Regions from separate parts of the Homo sapiens genome. Here region 2 is linked to region 1. A link means that fine-mapping ties the variant in region 1 to the expression of a gene that starts in the linked region. Tissue or cell type: whole blood. Region 1 holds a variant in brackets; the other region holds the start of a gene. All regions are shown on one strand. Distances are between the middles of the regions.

The links. PIP is the estimated chance that this variant, and not a neighbour inherited with it, causes the effect.
Region 2: it holds the start of SPDYC, and the variant in region 1 is fine-mapped to the expression of SPDYC in whole blood (INTERVAL, PIP above 0.99).

The regions. Positions count from the first base shown.
Region 1 is chr11:65,201,098-65,209,150 of GRCh38, forward strand. It overlaps CAPN1 (calpain 1), which reads left to right. Exons shown (of 22, transcript NM_005186.4): 11 at 3,586-3,761; 12 at 4,613-4,624; 13 at 5,366-5,577; 14 at 5,683-5,722; 15 at 6,958-7,023; 16 at 7,108-7,165. Among named protein-coding and RNA genes, the nearest start is that of CAPN1, 23 kb to the left of the region's middle. RefSeq lists enhancers at 2,864-3,851, 3,893-4,082. The variant A/T (reference allele first, on the strand shown) is at 3,786.
Region 2 is chr11:65,165,964-65,174,016 of GRCh38, forward strand. SPDYC (speedy/RINGO cell cycle regulator family member C) reads left to right here and starts at 4,270. Exons shown (of 7, transcript NM_001008778.3): 1 at 4,270-4,298; 2 at 5,364-5,536; 3 at 5,980-6,038; 4 at 6,283-6,368; 5 at 6,471-6,642; 6 at 6,721-7,051; 7 at 7,220-7,411. The coding sequence starts at 5,395. The coding sequence ends at 7,254.

The sequences.
Region 1 (8,053 bases):
CCACGCCCGGGTAATTTTTTGTGTTTTTAGTAGAGATGGGGTTTCACCATGTTAGCCAGGATGGTCTTGATCTCCTGACCTCATGATCCGCCCATCTTGGCCTCCCAAAGTGCTGAGATTACAGGTGTGAGCCACCACGCCTGGTCGTCTGGCTCATTTTCTTACTTTTTGTAGTGATGGGGTCTCCCTATGTTGCCCAGGCTGGTCTTGAACTCCTGGGCTCAAGCAGTCCTCCCACCTCGGTCTCCCAAAACACTGGGATTACAGTCCATCAGCCACTGTGCCTGGTGCAGGACGCTTTTAAGACTAAATTATCTTCTTAAGGTTTCACAGGCAGTGTGAATTAAAACTGAAAGGTCATGTGAAGCCTGGCTTGAGGTTATTTTTTCCTTCCCTCCAGGGAGGTTTAATTTTCTTTCTTTCTTTTTTTTTGTTTTTGAGACGGAGTCTCGCTCTGTCGCCCAGGCTTGAGTGCAGTGGCGCGATCTCGGCTCACTGCAAGCTCCGCCTCCCAGGTTCATGCCATTCTCCTGCCTCAGCCTCCCGAGTAGCTGGGACTACAGGCACCTGCCACCACGCCCGGCTAATTTTTTTGTATTTTTAGTAGAGACGGGGTTTCACCGTGTTAGCCAGGATGGTCTCGATCTCCTGACCTCGTGATCCGCCCGTCTCGGCCTCCCAAAGTGCTGGGATTACAGGCGTGAGCCACCGCGCCCGGCTTTTGTTTTTGTTTTTTTTTTTTTGAGACACGGTCTTGGTCTGTTGCCCAGGCTGGAGTGCAGTGGCATGATCTTGGCTCACTGCAACCTCCACCTCCCGGGTTCAAGCGATTTTCCTGCCTCATCCTCCCGAGTAAGTGGGACTACAGGTGCCCACCACCATGCCTGGCTAATTTCTGTATTTTTTCAGTAGAGAATGGGTTTTACCATGTTGGCCAGGCTGGTCTCAAACTCCTGACCTCAAATGATCCACCCGCCTCGGCCTCCCACAGTGCTGGGATTACAGGCGTGAGCCACTGCGCCCAGCCTAATTTTCTTTCATACTTCATTGCTGACATTCCTGACGGGGGTTCCAGTTTAATTGCAGGAACTTCCTGTTGGATTCTCTACCTCAGGTAGATGTTTATCATCTGCTTCTATACCCTGGGGTTCAGGGGTCTACAGAAGCCCTTTAGCATTATTTACCTTGCAGGGTTCCTACTTTCTATTTTTTAAAAATATCTTTATTGATACTTAATTCACATACCATACAAGTCACCTATTTAAAGTTGCAATTTAAATATACTATTAAATATACAATTTAAATGTACTGAAGTATATTACGATTTTATTTATTTATTTATTTGTTTGTTTGTTTGTTTATTGAGATGGAGTCTCGCTCTGTCACCCAGGCTGGAGTGCAGTGGCCAGATCTCGGCTCACTGCAACCTCTGTCTCCTGGGTTCACGCAATTCTCCTACCTCAGCCTTCCAGGTAGCTGGGATTACAGGCACCTGCCACCATGGCCACCTAATTTTTGCATTTTTAGTACAGACGGGGTTTCACCACGTTGGCCAGGCTGGTCTCAAACTCCTGACCTTAGGTGATCCAGCTGCCTCAGCCTCCCAAAGTGCTGGGATTACAGGTGTGAGCCACTGCACCTGGCCATATATTACGATTTAAATATACTATTAAATATACAATTTAAATATACTATTTAAAGTATATTCACAGAGTTGTGCAACCATCACCACATCAATTTTAGAACATTTCATTATCCCAAAAACAAATGAGGTACTCCTTAGCCATGACTCCCCAGCCCTCCCAGCAGCCCTGGCAACCACAAATCTACTTCTTATCTCTATGGATTTGCCTACTGGGATATTTCATGTGAACAGGATCATATAATACATGGTCCTTTGTGGCTGGCCTTTTTCATTTAGCATAATGTTTGCAAGGTTCCTCCATGTTGTAGCATGGATCAGAATGTTGTTCCTCTTTGTTGCCAAATAATATCCCATTGTTTGGCTCCATATTTTGTATATTCACTCTTCAGTTGATGGATAATTGGGTAGTTTCATCCACTCAGCTGTTATAAATAATGCAGCCATTAACATTCTCTCTTTTTTTTTTTAAATGGAATCTTGCTCTCTTGCCCAGGCTGGAGTGCAGTGGCACGATCTCGGCTCACTGCTACCTCTGCCTCTGGGTTCAAGCGATTCTCCTACCTCAGCCTCCTGAGTAGCTGGGATTACAGGCATGTGCCACCACGCCCAGCTAGTTTTGTGGGTTGTTTGTTTTTGAAACTGAATCTTACTCTGTCGCCCAGGCTGGAGTGCTGTGGCACGATCTCAGCTCACTGCAACCTCCGCCTCCCAGGTTTAAGCGATTCTCCTGCCTCAGCCTCCCAAGTAGCTGGGACTACAGGCATGGGCCACCATGCCCAGCTAATTTTTGTATTTTTAGTAGAGGTGGAGTTTCACCATATTGTCCAGGCTGGTCTCAAAACTCCTGACCTCAAGTGATCCGTCTGCCTGGGCCTCCCAAAGCGCTGGGATTACAGGTGTGAGCCACCGCGCCCTGCCACACTCTTATGAACAAGGCTTTGCATGGACACGTTTTCATTTCTCTTGGGTATAGAGCTTGGAGTGGAATTTCTGGGTCATATGAAGCTCTGTGTTTAACCTTTTGAGAAAGTGCCAGAATGTTCTTCGGAGCAGCTGCAACATTTTACATTCCCACCGGCATCCTGTGAGGTTCCCATCCCTCCACATCCTCACCCAAGTTGTTATTATCTTTATTATTATTATTATTATTGTCAATGGAGGGCAGGGGATGCAGTGGCTTATTAGTGCCTTTAAAAATAAGTTTTGCAGTTTACCGTTCTATCCCGCACTGGGTTGTTTTAGTCAAGAAGGTTCTTTAGGCAGCAAAATCACCCAACTGCCAGAAATGCAAGCCCCTGCCTTCCCTTGCTGGCTGGCTGTGGCCTCCTGTCGGACCCCTGCTTTTTCTCTTGCCTTCTTCTAAGCTGTTGTCCACGCAGCACTCGAGCCACCTTTTAGAGTCCTAATGCAGTCACATGCCTCCTCGCTGCAAGCTGTGGGAGGGTTCTTACCCTTTGCTTCAGTCCACACGCCCTAGTCCCTGGCCGGCTCCTGGGAGCTCTGCGGCCTCCCTGGGTCTCCGTGTTTCCTAGAGCCTCCGTAAGTGCTCCCTGTCCGCAGATGCGTGGGGCCCTTCCTCACCTCTGCTCTGGGGTGCCCTCCGCCTGGCTTCTGCTTCTCAGCAGCTTCCCAGGGCAGCCCCTTCGGGTCTCAGCGCATAGGTCCCCTACTCTGATCTACTCCTGCTTGCTTTTTTTTGCAGTTGCTCTGCTCGCTAACCTAACGGACTTGCTCAGACTTAAGCCTCTAGTTTCCAAATGCAGGCCGTGAGGGCATGGACCGAGCCTGGCCCAGCCTGCCCATCACCCTGCATGTTCCAGGTGCTCAATAATATTTGTTGAATGAATGAATGCGTGCACAGGGACGTGCTGAGGAGGCTTGGGGGCCAATTGGCTCTGCCCCGCCCTGCCTCTGATCCCCGCCTCCTCACCTGCCCGCAGCCACCTTCTGGGTGAACCCTCAGTTCAAGATCCGGCTGGATGAGACGGATGACCCGGACGACTACGGGGACCGCGAGTCAGGCTGCAGCTTCGTGCTCGCCCTTATGCAGAAGCACCGTCGCCGCGAGCGCCGCTTCGGCCGCGACATGGAGACTATTGGCTTCGCGGTCTACGAGGTCAGGAGGGTGGATCACCGGTGG[A/T]TCTCACTGAGCAGGCAGAGGACCTGGCGCCCCCGACCCGCAGTGCAGGCGGGCTTCCACCAGGGGGCGCCAGGGACCATGCCCTTCCCCACAAATTCCCCTCCACTCCCCCCACCATCCTGAGGGCTGGGAAATCTCAGCCTCCAGGAGGCACCTGCTGAGGCCCTCTGGCCGAAAGAGAGGAAGGGGGTTGGCTCAGGGAAGGGAGATTCTGGGATTCACCTCACGCTTAGAGGGCGGCCTGCTGCTCTTGGAGGAGGGAGCTGGCTCAGCTGATGCCTGGGAGTACTGAGCCCTCCGTCTTGGAAGCTGTGAGCAGAAGCTGGCAGGGGAAAGATAGGGGATAGGGAGGGCCTGTCGGCCAAGGTGAGGCTGTGCCAGTCGCTCTGGGATTAGAACTCCTTGCTCTTGCCCTGTATCTGCCCTGCTTCACACACTGCCCTCAAGACAGGGAGAGAAACTTCTGGACCTCCCTGGTCGCAGTCTTGGCCCACACCCAAACCCCCTGGCAGCAGCCTGCGGTGGCCCTTTCCTGTCCCTGGGCTTTGGAACATTGCAGTTGGCCACCCCGGGGGCTGGCCTGGAGCCTCTGACTCAGAATGGAGTCCTAGGGCAAGCATTCCCAGGACCAAGAGGACCCTGCCTGAGCCCTCCCTCCTGGGGCCCTGCTGTGGTGCAGGGACCAGATCTGGGTCCCCAGGGCCCTGCCTTCTGCCTCCTTATCCCATCAGTCCCGTCTAAGAACTCAAGACCTCTGCCCAGCATGCACTGTGACCCCGCCCTGGGACAAACACACATCTCTGACTTCCCCTGTCTCTCTATTGCAGGTCCCTCCGGAGGTAGGTGTGGCACCATGACCCACCTGCAGTCACACACCCCTGATGGTGCCAGAGGGGAGCAACCCAGTGGCAAACCCACCCTGGCCTGGAGAGCTAAGAAGTCACCTTGTTTCACTGCTTGAAAAATGCTTCTCCCCACCTGTTCAGTGGGCAGAGCAAACATTGCTCTCCTGAGGGTCAGCACAGGTAGTCAGTGAGGGAGCTGGATTTGAGCCCTGGTCCTCAGAGCCCCTGTCTGACATGTACACATGAGGCTTTTCCTGCCTTGCCATCTACACCAAGTAAGTGCCAACTAGGGCGGTCCAGCAATGTCAGGAGCAGGGCATTAGACAGGCTGAGAGTTCTGTACCCTTGAGCAGTTGCTTAAGCTCCGAGCCTGTGTTTGTGTCTGTAAAATGGGTGTAACAGCAGAACAGCAAATGAGGTGCCGAGTACCCTGCAGTACCTGACCTGGGGAAAGCTCCCAGTGATAATAATGACAGTGTTATTGAAACACATGCCTAATCTGCAATCCGGTGCTCCTCTCCTCTACCCTCTGCAGTGAGTAGGGTTGTTACATTTTACAGATGAGGAAACTGAGGCAAAATGTCTTGTTAGGGTCACACAGGCTGTGAGTGAGCCATGCCCCAGCTCTCCAGCCCCTTGGCCAGGACAAGGAGCCTGGAGTCTGGGTCTGGGGGTGGCCCCTGAGGGTGGGCTGAGTGGGCAGCTGCAGCCCTGCTCCCTCCTCCCTCCCACCAGCTGGTGGGCCAGCCGGCCGTACACTTGAAGCGTGACTTCTTCCTGGCCAATGCGTCTCGGGCGCGCTCAGAGCAGTTCATCAACCTGCGAGAGGTCAGCACCCGCTTCCGCCTGCCACCCGGGGAGTATGTGGTGGTGCCCTCCACCTTCGAGCCCAACAAGGAGGGCGACTTCGTGCTGCGCTTCTTCTCAGAGAAGAGTGCTGGGACTGTGTGAGTCATGGACTGGCCCCTGCCACTCTCCCCTCTCCCAGCCTCCCCTCTCAGGCCCTCTGCTGTCCCCCTCTGACTGGCTCCTTTCCTCCCCACTCTCTGCAGGGAGCTGGATGACCAGATCCAGGCCAATCTCCCCGATGAGGTGCGTGGTCCCACCCCACCAGGCCCCGTCCTCCTCTCTTCCTCACCCCTGGGTGTGTGATGGGGACCCAGGTGTCCTGTCCCCTGAGTTCCTGCTAACAGGGAAGATCCCCTCCTGGTGGAAGCCATAGGAGTAGTGCTAATCCCTCATCCGCCCAGCACTTTACAGTTTGCAGAGGACCTGTGATACTAATGGCACAGGCCCTGAGCTCTCACCCGGTGGCGGGTTTGTGCTGAGCACTTCACCTGTGTTACCTCATTTCCTCCCCACATCAACCCTGTCCGGGTCTTGTTACCATACCTCCTCTGAATGGGAAATTCAGGTTCACAGAGGTTAGGGAACTTGCCTGAGGCCATACAGTAGGGATCCAAACTCTTGCCTTTTTTTTTTTTTTTTTTTTGAGAGAGTCTCACTCTGTCACCCAGGCTGGAGTGCAATGGCGTGATCTCGGCTCACTGCAACCTCCGTCTCCTGGGTTCAGGTGATTCTCCTGCCTCAGCCTCCTGAGTAGCTGGGATTACAGGCGCACGTTACCACACCTGGCTAATTTTTGTATTTTTAGTAGAGACGGGGTTTTGCCATTTTGGTCAGGCTGGTTTCAAACTCCTGACTTCAAGTGATCCACCCACCTCGGCCTCACAAAGTGCTAGGATTACAGGTGTGAGCCACCGCACCTGGCCCAAACTCTTGCCTTTTACTCACTGAGCTGAACAGCATCCCCTTCATTTAGGTCACATGAGTGCTGGATATGGGGCGGGGCAGGGCAGGGCAGGAACGAGATTCCCTTTTCAGATTAGAAAAGTGAGACTCAAGCCGGGCTCAGTGGCTCACGCCTGTAATCCTAGCACTTTGGGAGGTTGAGGCGGGCGGATAACCTGAGGTCGGGAGTTTGAGACCAGCCTGGCCAACATGGCAAAACCCCGTCTCTACTAAAAATACAAAAATTAGCCGGGCATGGTGGTGGGCACCTTTAATCCCAGCTACTCAGGAGGCTGAGGCAGGGAGAATGGCTTGAGCCCGGGAGGCGGAGGTTGCAGTGAGCTGAGATCACGCCACTGTACTCCAGCCTGGGTGACAGAGTGAAACTCCATCTCAAAAAGAAAAGAAAAGAAAAGTGAGGCTCAGAGAAGCGAAGTGACTTGTAGCAGATATGTGACCTCAGCCCTCCCTCCAGCTGCCTCCACACGGGCAGGGCCGGGGCCTCTCTTACCTGCTTTCTCCCCTTCTCGGTCCAGCAAGTGCTCTCAGAAGAGGAGATTGACGAGAACTTCAAGGCCCTCTTCAGGCAGCTGGCAGGGGAGGTAGGTTGGGGCATGGCAGGTTGGGAGGGGCCTGTGAGGGGCAGCCCTCTCCTGGGGCAGGTGCCACCTCCTCTCTCTCCCCAGGACATGGAGATCAGCGTGAAGGAGTTGCGGACAATCCTCAATAGGATCATCAGCAAACGTGAGTCCCCGCGGGGCTGTCCCACCACCCCACCATTTCTTCCACATCAGAATCCAGGCTCCTGCTCACACATTGAGCTGAACCTCATCCCTTGGTCTGCATGAGTCGGGGAATCCTCCAGTTTTTCTGAGCCCAGTTCCCTGCCATTTCCATCCCATACTCCTCCTCCTGACCTGCCATCCTGATAATCCCTGTGCTCGGGTGCTGTGCCTTTGTGGGATTAGCAGCGCAGCCTGGCCAGGCACAGTGGCTCACACCTGTAGTCCCAACACTCTGGGAGGCCGAGGCAGGAGTCGCTTCAGCCCAGGAGTTCAACACCAGCCTGGACAATATGGAGAGACCCTGTCTCTGCAAAAAAGTACAAAAATTAGCTGGGCGTGGTGGCATGCACCTATAGTCCCAGCTACTCAGGAGGCTGAGTTGGGAGGATGGCTTGAGACCAGGGAGGTTAAGGCTGCAGTGAGCTGTGATCACATCAGTGCACTCCAGCCTGGGCAACAGAGCAAGACCCTGTCTCAAAAAAAAAAGCAGGAGCAGCACCTTAGTGCCAAAGAAAAGTCTACCTTTCCTCCCAGAGCCTCCTGGGCCAGGCTGAGTGGCTTGGGGAACACCACGTGACTGGCTTCACTCCCCAGGGCAGACAACTGCTGGCCTCTCATCCCCTCCCCTCCCCTTTGCTGCCACTGACCTCCATCCACACGGTTTCCTTAAGCAGAGCTTTTCTCCTCCTCTTCTCTGCTAGTGAAGCACTGCTTACCCTCCTAGCCTACAGCAAGCCCTGCCCTGCCCCATCTTTCTACCCAATTTCTCGCTCTTCTGTTTCACACTCATTTCTTTTTACTTTGGACTAATTGTGGCTGTTGGGACTTTGGCTTGATTGCTAAAATA
Region 2 (8,053 bases), 35 kb before region 1:
CTTCCCCAGCTTTTCTTGGCACAAAGCCTCGTGCCTGGGAGAGGCCGCAGCGCACGACGGCGTGCGGGGATATGGTCGCTTTCTTTTTATTTACATTTATCTTGAAGTTTGGACCTTCTCTGCTTTCAAGTTATGCCGACGCTGTGGTTTTGGCAGCGTTTTATTTTTCCTTTCTTGTTGTCTGGGGCTGTGTGGACAGCAAAAGTTGGCGGATGGGGACCCAGGCAGCCCCTTGGGCCTCAGGACCCGGAAGTCCCCCTGGCTGGCTTGTGACTTTTTAAGATGGAGTTCAGTTCATCAGCGTGACAGCTTTTCTTATTTTCTAACACGCGCGTTTGAGGTCATAAATTCCTCTCTAAGAATTACTAGTTGTGTCCTCCAACTTTGACAGACAATATTTTCTTTCTTTCTTTTTCTTTTTCTTTTTCTTTTTTTTTTTTTTTTTTTTTTTTTTTTTTTTTTTTGAGACGGAGTCTTGCTCTGTTACCCAGGCTGGAGCAGTGGCGCGACCTCCGCTCACTGCAACCTCCGCCTCCCGGGTTCACGCCATTCTCTTGCCTCACCCACCTGAGTAGTTGGGACTACAGGCGCCCGCCACCACGCCCGGCTTTTTGTATTTTCAGTAGAAACGGGGTTTCACTATGTTGGCCAGACTGGTCGCTAACTCCTGACCTTGTGATCCGCCTGCTTCGGCCTCCCAAAGTGCTGGGATTATCGGCGTGAGCCACCTCGCCCGGGTACATTTGATTAATTTTTAGGAAGATGTTCTGTGCGTGCTTTCCTGCCTTTGTTGGGTGCAGTGCCAGCTTATTCGTCCACTAGGTCAAATTTCTTCATCATATTCTTCATATCTTTTACTGCTTTGCTAACTTTTTTGCCTTGCATGTGCCATCATATCTACAATTATGATTGTGATTTGTTTTTCCGTGTGGTTCTGTTGATTTTACACACACACACACACAGACACACACACATGCGGTTTCTTGCTTATTGACTTTATTTTTAGGAGTAAACAAATTACTATATATTTTTTTCTTTACCTGGATTCTGGTTAGGTAATTATACACTTTTTTTTCTTCCTTCCTTCCCTCCCTCCCTTCTTTCTTTCTTCTCCTTCCTTTTTCCTTTTATTTTTCTCTTCCTGCCTCTTTCCTTTCCTTTATTTTCCCTCCCCTCCTTCCCCTCCTCTTCTTACCGACAGGATCTCCCTATGTTGCCCAGACCAGCACTACAGGTGCACACCACCACATCCGGCTGTATATTTTTAAAATCACTACATAAATTCTCTTTCTCCCTAGTTATGCTTTTTGTCCAAAGTTGTGTTTTTTTGTTTGTTTTTTGTTTTTTTTTTTTTTTGAGACAAGTTCTCACTCTGTCACCCAGGCTGGAGTGCAGTGGTACAATCTTGGCTCACCAAAACCTCTGCCTTCTAGGCTCAAGCGATTCTCCTGCCACAGCCTCCCAAGTAGCTGGGATTACAGGCATTCGCCACTACCACCCACCTAATTTTTGTATTTTTAGTAGAAATGGAATTTCACCATGTTGGCCAGGCTGGTCTTGAACTCCTGACCTCAAATGATCTACCTGCCTCGGCCTCCCAACGTGCTGGGATTACAGGCATAAGCCACCGCGCCCGGCCTAAAGTTGTTTTAATATATTAGTGTAGTTATCCCAGCTTTCTTTTAGTAATTGCATATTATTTTTTCTATCTTTATATTTTGAAATTTTTAATATTCTTATTTATTTATTTATTCATGTTTTAGAGACAGGGTCTTGCTGTGTCACCCAGGCTGGGTAGAATGGCATGATAATAGCTCACTGCAGCCTTGAACTCCTGGGCTCAAGTGATCCTCCCACCTCAGCCTCTTGAGTAGATAGGACTGCAGTCACGTGCCACCATGCCAGGCTAGTTTATTTTTGGTAGAGATGGGGCCTTGATGTATTGCCCAGGTTAGTCTCTAACTCCTGAACTCAAATGATCCTCCTGTCTCGGCCTCCAAAAAGTGCTGAGATTATAGGCGTGAGCCAATGGACCTGGCCATATATATATTTTTTGAGCTGGTAGTATGTTATTATGTTTTATGTGTATTCTTTTATATCCTTTTACGTGTATCCTTTATAGCATGCAATATTAATATATGATTTTACAAATTATATATACATTTACATGAATATAAATTTTATAAATAGTATATTAGTTAGCATAGAATAAATTTTGCTGTGATAATTGTAGCAGGCAGAATAATGGACTCCCAAAGATGGCTACATTTCACTTCCCAGACCTGAGAATATGTTATCTCACATGGCAAAAAAGACTTTGCAGATGGTTAAGGATCTTTTTTTGAGACCAAGTCTTGCTCTGTTGCCCAGACTGGAGTGCAATGGCATGATCTCAGCTCACTGCAACCTCCACCCCCAGGGCTCAAGCAATTCTCCTGCCTCAGCCTCCCGAGTAGTTAGGATTACAGGCATGCACCACCATGCCCCGCTAATTTTTGTATTTTTAGTAGAGGAGGGGTTTTGCCATGTTTACCAGGCTGGTCTTGAACTCCTGACCTCAGGTGATCTGCTCTCCTCTGCCTCCCACAATGCTGGGATTACAGGGGTAAGCCACCTCTCCCAGCCAAGTTAAGGATCTTGAGATGGGGAGATTATCTGGGCAGATTGAAGAGCCCAGTGAATCATGGGATTCTGAAAAGTGAAAGAGAAAGGCTGGGCATGGTGGCTCATGCCTGTAATCCCAGCATTCTGGGAGGCCAAGGCGGGTGGATCATGAGGTCAGGAGAACAAAACAAAACAAAAAAATTGCCAGGCATGGCGGCACATGCCTGTAGTCCCAGCTACTCGGGAGGCTGAGGCAGGAGAATTGCTTGAGCCCTGGAGGTGGAAGTTGCAGGGAGCCGGGATTGGGCCACTGCACTCCGGCCTGGGCAACACAGCGAGACTCCGTCTCAAAAAAAAAAAAAAAAAAAGTAAAAACAAATATTCTCCCCAGTGTGGGAGATCGGTGTCAGATCTCCAGGGGTGGCACTGAAGGAAATCAGCCTGAAGGCCCTCCCAAAGTTAAAGTGACTAGCCCACTCCCAGGCTTCTTTTTGGTACACCTTCCTGATCTCTAACCTTAATTACTGGGGGAGGAGGAGAACAGTTGAAAACACAGCTGGTCTAGGAGATTCATTCGGTTTCATGGAACACCTTCTCTGTGCAGGCAGCGTCCAGGAACAGCTGTAGACCACACAGCCAGGCTACCCAGCGTGTGGGCCCAGCAGCCAGGCTGGAACTCTATCTCTACTTACCAGCTGAGTGGCTGGCAGGAAGTTACTCAGCCTGTCGGTCAGCAACCCAAACTCTGTGTGTTAGTTGTTTGTTCGCTGACAAAATGAGGCTTCTCATCATTCTCATCAACTTCACGGGCTTGCTGTGAGGAACACGTGAGCTGATTCCATCACAGACTCCTCAGTAGGCAGCAGTAGGTGTTTAGTGAACGGGCTATGGATGCTGCCCCACTCACTACTTCCTTTCTAGGGGAGGCCGACTTCAAATGCGTGCACACACACAAACAGGATGGCCTGATGCAGACCAGCTGGTCTAGAAAGGCCTTCACGGCCTCAGGGAGCCTGGGAGGCGGCCTGGGGGAGACCATGAAACAGCAGATACACCAGAGACCAGAGATCAGAGAGAAAACAAAGGACCCAGAGATCCACAGACATCCAGACACCAGAGGCAACAAGAAACTGAGAGACTCAGAGGCCCACTGAGACCCAGGCAGCTTGTTCTGTGTTACGAGGGGAAAAATAAAATAAGAAACAAAAGAGAGACTCGGGGGGCCTCAGTGAAACCTAGAGACTCAAGGAGGCCAGGAGATTCAGAGACACCCATAGAGAGCCAGAGACCCTGCCCTAGCAAGGCACAATCAATGAAAAAAAACTCGCCCACCAGGCCCTCGCAGTCCGGGTCTCATATCCCGGCTCAGCACCTTGGCGCTGCATTTGTCAAGAGGGGAACAGGGATCCTAGCTCCCTGCCTGTCCTATGGGGCCTTAGGCCCTGGGGTCCAGCTGGCCTGCCTTCACCCCTCTTGTAGTTGATGAAGCTTTGGAGAGGCTTTCAAACCCTGGGGAGCCACAGCTGGGTGCCGACTGGACTCACTGGCAGAGAGGCAGGCGGTGAAGGCCAAGCCTCGCCCCCCAGGAAGGCCCTGATTGGTGGACGGGCTGCTTTGGGCAGGGCCGCCCTCAGGCTATATAAGCGCACTCGCGGCGGCGTTGGTGTTATGCTCTGGGCCATTCCTGAGCTCGGGTAAGGCTCGCTGCAGGAGGAGGCTGGGTTGCTTGCGGGCGCCTAGATGGAGGGGCCCAGATTGGCCCTGGGGTGGTCGACCGCACGTTCTCCTCGGCCCCGTGGTTGGCTTCTCTCTCTCAGGGATGAGGGTGGGTTTAGGACGGGAGCTTGAAATGTTTGAAGTGGCCCCATCAACTTGCTCTAAATCCAGGTATTTTTCTAATTTCATTCCTCCCTGAGGGCCTCAGTTTCCCCTCGGTGTAAGGGATCAGTGGCCCTTTCAACTCTGCTTTGGTGAGGGGTCGGGGGTGGTTGTGAGTTGGGGCCTAGAGGAGCAGTTAAACTCTTGGGTTTTTTTTTTCTTTTTTTTTGGCCAGGCGCAGTGGCTCACGCCTGCAATCCCAGCACTTTGGGAGGTCAGGAGTGTGAGACCAGCCTGGCCAACACGGTGAAACCCTGTCTCTACCAAAAAAATACAAAAAAAATTAGCCGGGCGTGGTGGCATGGCGCATGCCTGTAATCCCAGCTACTCGGGAGGCTCAGGCTGGAGAATCAGTTGAACCCGGGAGGCGGAGGTTGCAGTGAGCCGAGATCGCGCCACTGCACTCCAGTCTGGGCGACAGAGAGAGACTGTGTCTCAAAACAAACAAACAAAAACCAAAAAACCTCTTGGGGTTTTGGAGACCAAGGGCTTCACTTTTAACCGGCTGTTAGGCCTCAGCTTCAGTTTCCTCGTTTGACGACCGGTCTGAGTTAAACTTACCTCCTTACCAGGATGGAATAAGATAAGGCCCTTAAGCACAGCCCCAGGCACTTAGGAAGCCCTCAGCGGTGCTTGTTGCTGCTGTTACTCTGGCCTGTCCTGGGGTGCCAGGAGGAGGGTGAGGGTGCCACACCCTCACCTATAGCAACTCTTTGCTTCTTTTCTGGCCTCCCCACTCTTGTTGCATCCCGGCTGCCTTCTGTTCTGAGCCCCCAAGTCTCTGCACCCACCCCTCCACCGTCCTGGCCCCTGTCACCACCCTCTTGATTTGTGAGCATCACGGGGGTACATGCTAAGTCCTGAGCCTCCTTTCTCTACAGGTCACCCTGCCCCATCTCCATCTCCTATGAGATGAGTGACTCCCAAGACCCCACCACTTCCCCTGTAGTTACCACCCAGGTAGAGCTGGGGGGCTGCAGCCGGCAAGGTGGGGGCAATGGGTTCCTCCGTTTTCGCCAGCACCAGGAGGTCCAGGCCTTCCTCAGCCTTCTGGGTGAGTTTGGAGGGCTGGCACGGGAGGGGCCGTGAGGTCAAGTGTGAAAGCAGATGTGAAGTGTGGGGTCTCACCTGCCTGTACAGACATCTGAGACCTCTGACCCTCTCCCTCTCAGGTATCCCAGCTTAGGCAGGTGGGAGGGGTGTCCTCTCAGAAACTGGATTCAGGGCCAGGCACCGTGAGTCATACCTATAATCCCAACATTTTGGGAGGCTGAAATGGGAGTATCACTTCAGGCCAGGAGTTCAAGACCAGCCTGGTCAACATAGTGAGACTCCATTTCTATTTATATTAAGAAAGAGAGAGAGAAAGAGAAAAAGGGAGAAAAAGAGAAAGAGAGAGAGGGTTCAGTGGTGGCTTGGGCTTTGGAGCTTCTGATGCCACTCTTCTCCATGGAGGTGGTGGTAACCTGCGTCCTGTCATGTCTTCTCTACCCTCAGAGGACAGTTTTGTCCAGGAATTCCTCTCCAAAGACCCCTGCTTCCAGATTTCAGATAAGGTGAGGGAGTACAGGCTGGGGGTCTCTTGAGGGTCAGGTTGAGTTGGTGGGAATTGAGTGCCCTGGTCTGGTAGGGAGAGCCACTCACCTTCCATCCTTACCCCCTCATCTTTGCACACCACTTCCCACCATTTTACTGACTTTCTTTCCCTGCAGCAAAACCTCCCTGGGTGCAAATGAACCTGGGTGCAAGCCCCTCCTCCTCAGAGAATAACTAACCCCCCACCCCGATCTGTCTCTGCAGTATCTCCTGGCCATGGTGCTGGTCTACTTCCAGCGCGCCCACCTGAAGCTCAGCGAGTATACCCACAGCAGCCTGTTCTTGGCCCTGTGAGTGGTGGGGGCAGGCAGTGGAGGCATTTGCTGGAGGTGTCAGATGGGACAGGGCAGATGTGTGGCCTCTGCTCCCTGACCTTGTGCCTCTGTGGCTAGGTACCTTGCAAACGACATGGAGGAGGACCTGGAGGGCCCCAAATGTGAGATTTTTCCATGGGCCCTGGGAAAAGATTGGTGTTTACGAGTGGGGAAATTCCTGCACCAGAGGGATAAGCTTTGGGCACGGATGGGTTTCCGGGCTGTTGTGAGCCGCCAGTGCTGTGAGGAGGTGAGGCTGGGAGGCAACCTGGGGTGTGGGGAAGGCTGGGGTTCCCACCCCATTTACTGTCCACTCTGCTCCTCCCAGGTCATGGCAAAGGAGCCATTCCACTGGGCTTGGACTCGGGACCGGCGCCCCCACCATGGTGGGGTTCAGAGGGTCTGTCCACAGGTCCCTGTTCGCCTTCCCCGGGGCCCTGGCCTCTCGCCGCCCCACTGTTCCCCCTGTGGTTTGCCCCAGCACTGCAGCAGCCACTTGCTTAAGCCTGTGTCATCCAAGTGCCCTTCTCTGACCTCTGAATGTCATCGCCCTCCCTCCCAAAATTATCTCTCAAGGGTCAAAAACGCCTGGGGTGGGGACTTTCTCATCGTCTTGCCTCCCCAGATGCAACTGGAACCAGGCACCTACTCCCTCCGCAGTGAGTGCAGGATGGGACAGGAGCTGGGGGCTGGTGTGGGAGCTTGGGAGGCAGGAGTGAGGACCAACAATATGAGAGAGAGGGCCATGGGCCTGGGGTCGACGTGCTGCCCCTCCCGTGTGAGCTTGGCAGGTTTCTTCTCTGAGCCTCACTCTTTCCTCTCCCCAGTCTTCCCAAAGCCTCCGGCACGCCCTGGGCACTGAAGCTCTGCAGGGTGAAGAACAGCACGCCTGCTGGCCCACTGACTGACACACCATTGGCTGTGCTCCCACCCCTGCCCCTTCCTCCCAGCCTGCAGCTTGTGCCCACTCTGGTGCCAGTCCCCTCTAATAAATTCATGTCCACAGGACACCAACTGTGCTTAGGTCCTGGCCTGGTTCCTTGACCCAAGGTTGGGGTGGGGAGGGGGTATCTACCAGGGTTACAACATGTGAGCACAGGCTCTGTAACAGCTTGGCCCCTTCCCATTGGTGGCCAGTTATTCTGAGCCTCAGTTTCATCTCTGTGCTATCCATGCCTATGGATGATGAGATCTACACAGTCTAGATGGGATTAAATGAGATGAGGTATCTGCAGCCCTTAGAAGAGGGCCAGGGAGCCGAACGTGGTGGCTCACACCTGTAATCCCAGCACTTTGGGAGGCTGAGCCGGGTGGATCACTTGAGGTCAGGAGTTCAAAAACAGCCTGGCCAACATGGTGAAACCCCTTTGCTACTAAAAATACAGAAACTAGCCAGGCATGGTGGCAGGTGCCTATAATCCCAGCTACTCGGGACGCCAAGGTGGGAGAATTGCTTGAACTGTGGAGGCGGAGGTTACAGCGAGTTGAGATCATGCCACTGCACTCCAGCCTGGACGACAGAGTGAGACTCTGTCTCAAAAAAAAAAAAAAAAAAGGCCAGGAACATATTGGGAAACAAAACTTGAATGGAAGACAGCTCTTTATTTAGTCTAGAAATGCCTTCAGGGCCAGGTTTACTTAGGAATAAGACTTGATCCCTT